Linked DNA regions of Homo sapiens: region 1 is linked to region 2. The links come from fine-mapping of genetic effects on gene expression. A gene starts in region 2. The other region holds a variant in brackets. All regions are shown on one strand. Distances are from middle to middle.

Region 1 (2,912 bases), 110 kb after region 2:
AAATGCTGTTTAAATCTGTGAATTTAAATCTGGGTTCTTTGGAGGAAGGCATAAAGGGGTGATTGATTAATATCATTTTGGCTGCTCTTCTGCCACAAGGAATATGAGTAGAATAAAGAAAGGAAGAAGAAGATACAAAGAAATTCAGGTTAGAGAAGAAACACTACATTGAGAATCAAGAAGCATGGATTTTGATCTGTATTGTTACTAATTTGGTCTGTGATTTGATCTATATTCTGTTAATGATTTGGTCTGTGATTTCACTTCTCTGGTCCTAAGTTTTTGACCTATGAAATTAGTGGTTTGGAATTTTTTTAAAAATTGTCTGAAATTCTAAGGCAGAAAAGAGAAGTAAAGCAGCAGGCCGGGCATGGTGGCTCATGCCTGTAATCCCAGCACTTTGGGAGGCCAGGGCGGAGGACTGCTTGAGCCCAGCCTGGACAACACGGTGAAACTCTGTCTCTACAAAAAATAAAAATAAAAAAATTAGCCTGGCCTGGTGGCACATGCCTGTAGTCCCAGCTACTGGGGAGGTTGAAGCAGGAAAATCACTTGAGCTCAGGAGTTCAAGACCACAGTGAGCTATATGATCACATACCTGCACTTTGGCCTGGGTAACAGAGTGAGACCCTGTCTAAAAAAAAAAAAAAAATCCATATTGTTATTAAATAATATAAAGAGGAGAGCTTGTCTGTTAAAGAAAAATACCTATTACAGTTAGTGTTGTTGCATAGCAAATTATTCCCAGAATTTAGGGGCTTAAAGTAATCGTTTACTTTGCTTCTGATTTTGTGGGTCAGGATTATGGGAATGGCTCAGCTGGATAATTCTCATTTCGGGTTTCTCATGAGGCTGATGTCAGATGGGGCTACAGTCATCTGAAAGCTCAGTTGGGCTACATGTCCAAGATGGCTCATTCACATGGCTGGCAGTTGATTTTGGCCATCAGTCAGAGTGTCTGCATGTAGTCTTTCCAGCATGATGGTCTCAAGATAGTCAGGTTTTTTACATGGTGGCTCTCTTCTACCAGCGTGTCCCAAAGAAGACCAGACAGAAACTGCGTGACTTTTCTGACCTTGTCTTGAAAGTTACGTAGCATTACTTCCCCTGTACTGTATTGGTTGAAGCAGATACAAGCATGCCCAGATTCAAGGGGACAGGTCCTAAATCCCACTTCCGTGAGAAGAATGTCAGAGAATTTGGGGGCCACGTGTTTAAAACTGCCACATTTTCTCTTCATAGAGTAGATGGCTTCTATTGAGAATAGCACATAAGTACTGAAGTTTCTTTTCTTTTCTTTTCTCTTCTCTTCTTTTCTCTTCTCTTTTCTTTC[C/CT]TTTTTTTTTTTTTTTTTGACGGAGTCCCACTCTGTCACCCAGGCTGGAGTGCAGTGGCATGATCTTGGCTCACTGCAACCTCTACTCCCAGGTTCAAACGATTCTCCTGCCTCAGCCTCCCAAGTAACTGGGATTACAGGTGCATGCCACCATGCCTGGCTAATTTTTGTATTTTTGGTAGAGACAGGGTTTCGCCATGTTGGCCAGGCTGGTCTCAAACTCTTGACCTCGAGTGATCCACCTGCCTCGGCCTCCCAAAGTACTGGGATTACAGGCTTGAGCCACCCCACCCAGCCTGAAGTTTATTCTTTCTTTTTGCTTGGTTGAAGCACAACCAAGCAAAAGAAATGTGTTTAAAATTATGATCACAGAATAAGTGTTACAAATTTTTCAGTGGTAACTTAATCCAGATAGTAATAACCCATACATTAATTTCTTGCCTTTCTCTTGTATGGAGATTATGCACAGGAGTTTGGACCTTATTCTGTAGACAGTTGGGAATCACTTGAGGCAGGAAGTATAGAAGTTGATTAGAAATAGGTAAGACTGGAGGCAAAAAGAGTAGCGCCAATTCTTTTCTTCCCCAAGCAGTGCAGGTGAGCAGTGAGATCCAGAACTGGGGCAGTGGCAGTTGGGATAGAGAGATGTTTAATTCAAGACATAGTAAAACATTAATAAAACGTAATTTTTTTTTTGAGACAGGGTCTCACTGTCACCCAGGCTGGAGTGCAGTGGCACGATCACAGCTCACTGTAGCCGCAATCCCCTGAGCTCAAGCAATCCTCCCACCTCAGCCTCCTGAGTAGCTGGGACTGCAAGCGCAAGCCACCGTGCCTGGCTAATTTTTAATTTTTTGTAAAGACGGGTGTCTCATCATGTTGCCTAGGCTAGTCTCGAACTCCTGGACTCAAGTGATCCTTCTGCCTTGGCCTCCCAAAATGTTGGGATTACAAGTGTGAACCACTACATGCTGGCTAACATATTTGTAAAGAAATTATTTATATTCGAATAGCTAGTAAATAAATGAACAAAATTCAAAATGTTCAAAAGGATAGATAATAAAAATAAGTTTTTTATCATCTCTTCTCCCCTACTTGCCCAGTTTTCCCCTAAGGCTATCACTATTACTATTTTTTTGAGTGTATTTCCAGAGATTCTATGCATATACAAACTTACTTTTATCGTACTGTATTCACTATTCTGTACCTTGCTTTTTTCACTTAAAATATATCTTGGAGATAGTTTATATCAAAACATATATAGCTGCCTTGCTGTCTTAACTATAGAGGATTCCATTGTATAGATAGGCCGTAATTTATTTATTTATTTTTATTTTTTATTTTTTTGGAGATGGAGTCTCGCTCTTCTCCCAGGCTGGAGTACAGTGACGTGATCTCAGCTCAGTACAACCTCCACCTGCCGGGTTAAAACAATTCTCCTAGTTCAGGCTCCTGAGTAGCTAGGATTACAGGTGCACACCACCACGCCTGGCTAATTTTTGTATTTTAGCAGAGACAGGGTTTCATCACGTTGGCCAGGCTGGTCTCGAACTCTTGACCTCAGGTGATCCACCTGCCT
Region 2 (2,912 bases):
AGTATTGGCAAACAATTTTCTTTCTTTCTTCCTTTTTTTCTGGGACGGCATCTCACTCCGTTGTCCAGGCTGGAGTGCCGTGGCATGATCTTGGCTCACTGCAGCCTCTGCCTCCCAGGTTCAAGCGATCCTCCTGCCTCAGCCTCCCAAGTAGCTGGGATTTCAGGTGCCCGCCACCACGCCTGGCTAATTTTTGTATTTTTAGTAGAGATGGGGTTTCACCATGTTGGCCAGGCTGGTCTTGAAGTCCTGATCTCAAGTGATCTGCCGGCCTTGGCCTCCCAAAGTGCTGGGATTACAGACGTCAACCACTATGCCCAGCTGGCAAACGATTTTCAAAGGCTGTAACAATTGCTCTATTTGTTGGACATTAGTTTTAGACAGTTTTTTGTTATTAAAAAGGACGCTGCGGTGCATGTCTTTTTGCTTACATCCTCTAAATGTAAAATTTAAAAATAATACAGAAAAGTACAAAGTAAAAATCACCTTAAATCCCATCACTTAGGAAATTAACTACTCATATTCACTATTCATATCCCTCTATGCTGATATATGTATCTGAATTTCAGATGATTGCCCTATTAGAATTATAGGTGAAAAGATTTGGCCTCGTTTAAGGCAACGTGTAATTCCTCAGCCTTGAATTTTGATCTAGTGATACCTAACTTCTTTGAGGAATGATCTTAGCTTCCAAACCCAGAATGTGACAGAAAGCGCCACAGCAAGCAAGGTCCTACTTTATCCCTTCTAAAAACAAAGCCACTGAAGTTTGGAAGGGTGTTGAGTTCTCAATATCACAAAGAAAAATAAAGCCACTTCCAGCCTGGAGCCGCCGCTTCTCCTTTAAATACTCGCTCACGTGATCGCAGACGGGCACGCGCGGAGGAACTTCACGCTGTCAGGACAACGAGCCATTCCTCTACCACTTCCCCTCCCCTAAGGCTTCTTGGCGTTCCCTCCCCGGAAGTCACAACTCCTCTGGAGACTTTCTCTTCCTCATCCCCTCCGTCGAGTCACCTATCCTCACTCCTTTCTGTTAGCTGCCGGCCCTAGCGCTCCCTCTCCTCGGCTGAATCTCACTTAGTGGAGGAAAGGCTGAAAGGACTACAACTCCCAGGGGACGCTGCGGGCCCCGCCCATGGGGCGCGCAGTGTAGGTCGGGGCCTGAGGTCCCACGGTCTTCTCGCCGCGTGCGGCCGGGAGCAAACGCACTACAGGTTCCGTGGCGCCTCGCGCGAGGCCAGACCGGGACGGGGCGGGGCGGGGCTGGAGGGGCCGGGACTGGCGGGCGGAGAAAGGGGGTGGGAGAGGAGGCGATGGAGGGGAGGAGTGGGGACATGGGGGAGGGAAGAGGAAGGGAGGTGGGAGGCGGGGCCGACCAAGAGCAGGAGCTGGAGTCTGAGCCGGTGGTTGCAGCGGAGGCGGTGATGTCGGTGCAGGTTGTGTCAGCCGCGGCTGCCGCCAAGGTGCCTGAGGTGGAGCTGAAGGACCTGAGCCCCTCCGAGGCGGAGTCGCAACTAGGACTGAGCACGGCCGCCGTGGGCGCCATGGCCCCCCCGGCGGGCGGTGGAGACCCTGAGGCTCCAGCTCCCGCCGCGGAGCGGCCCCCGGTCCCCGGCCCGGGCTCGGGGCCCGCCGCCGCTCTCAGCCCCGCCGCCGGGAAGGTGCCTCAGGCGTCGGCCATGAAGCGGAGCGACCCACATCACCAGCACCAGCGGCACCGCGACGGCGGCGAGGCCCTGGTCAGCCCCGACGGCACCGTCACCGAGGCGCCGCGCACAGTCAAGAAGGTACTGGGGCCGGGCTGCCTCTCTAGGAGAGGAAGGGAGGGGAGGGGAACTGCAGATCCTCTCGGCACGGCGGCACCACCCTCCACGCCCTCCTTTCTGATCGCAGGACCGGAGATACCCCTTGTCCCCTTAAACCCACTCTCTCAGAGATGCCCCCCAGCCGGCCCCTCGTGCTGGGAGCGGAGACTCCAGGAGGCACGGCCGTACTTCGCTCTGAATAACATGGAGGTAGCGCTCTCCCCTACTACTTGGAATAGGCAGCGGGAGGAGAGACACCTAATAGTACGTCCCGCGGCCCCAACACGCTCCCGGGTGTGATTTTCCAGCCTATCGGGGAAGAGACCTCGATAGTATAGAAAAACCTTACCGCTCACGGGAGTTCACACAGCAATAAGGATGAAAAGATCTTTAATACTTGGAGAACGAGTAAGGTGTAGTCACCTTGCATAGAAATCGTCAGAGTTGTCTGGTTTCCATACAGTTGATGACTTTCTGCCTTTCTGTGGCCAACCGTGGCCATACAGCAACACGATGCTGTGCCCTTCATTTCCAGCGACTGCGATATTCTCTCTTCCCTGAATATGTAAAAGGGTAATGGAGAGATTCTCCTCACTCTTTCGTGTTAAGAGCTTTGTCCTCCCTGCTGGGTATAGTTGGTCACCAGGATTATTAGGCTGTGTATGAAGAGAATGAATGTCTTATTGATTGCTTTATTATAATCTGAAAGTGATAGGAAGAAATGCTGCTACTTTTGGGAAAGACGATCTTTGTGGGGTTTTCGGTCTTAGGCGTCAGCTTCTTTCAGACAGTTTTGAGGAGGTCTCAGAATACCAAGAAGTAACTGCCTAGGTGGATGATAGCCCTGTATTACCCGTACATTGTCTATCCATAGTTGTCTGTCTCTCTCAAAGCTTGTCTTTCTTTCTCTCTTAAAGCTGAATCAGCACAGAAAAACAGGGCAAGTATTGGAAAAGACAGAAGTGTGGATCATATAAAAAGGGCTTACAGCTTCAATTTCGTAGACACAGTATGGGCACAGGGATTAATGTTTTTTTTAAATTGTTGTGAATGGTTTTTAATTGCTTTATCAGAACAGCAACAAAGAGACGGGAAGTGTGCATT

Alleles and levels. Positions count from the first base shown, and alleles are read on the strand shown. Sizes are in standard deviations (SD) of each study's normalised expression.
With allele CT in place of C in region 1, the expression in monocytes after interferon gamma of the gene that starts at base 1,381 in region 2 is lower (moderate effect, 0.48 SD a copy in Fairfax 2014).

What was found. PIP is the estimated chance that this variant, and not a neighbour inherited with it, causes the effect.
Region 1: its variant is fine-mapped to the expression of AHCYL2 in monocytes after interferon gamma (Fairfax 2014, PIP 0.95).

The regions. Positions count from the first base shown.
Region 1 is chr7:129,334,738-129,337,649 of GRCh38, forward strand. All of the region lies in intron 1 of AHCYL2 (adenosylhomocysteinase like 2), which reads left to right. Among named protein-coding and RNA genes, the nearest start is that of STRIP2, 98 kb to the right of the region's middle. The variant C/CT (reference allele first, on the strand shown) is at 1,334.
Region 2 is chr7:129,223,650-129,226,561 of GRCh38, forward strand. AHCYL2 (adenosylhomocysteinase like 2) reads left to right here and starts at 1,381. Exons shown (of 17, transcript NM_015328.4): 1 at 1,381-1,790. The coding sequence starts at 1,428. RefSeq lists an enhancer at 885-994 and silencers at 1,275-1,344, 1,465-1,714.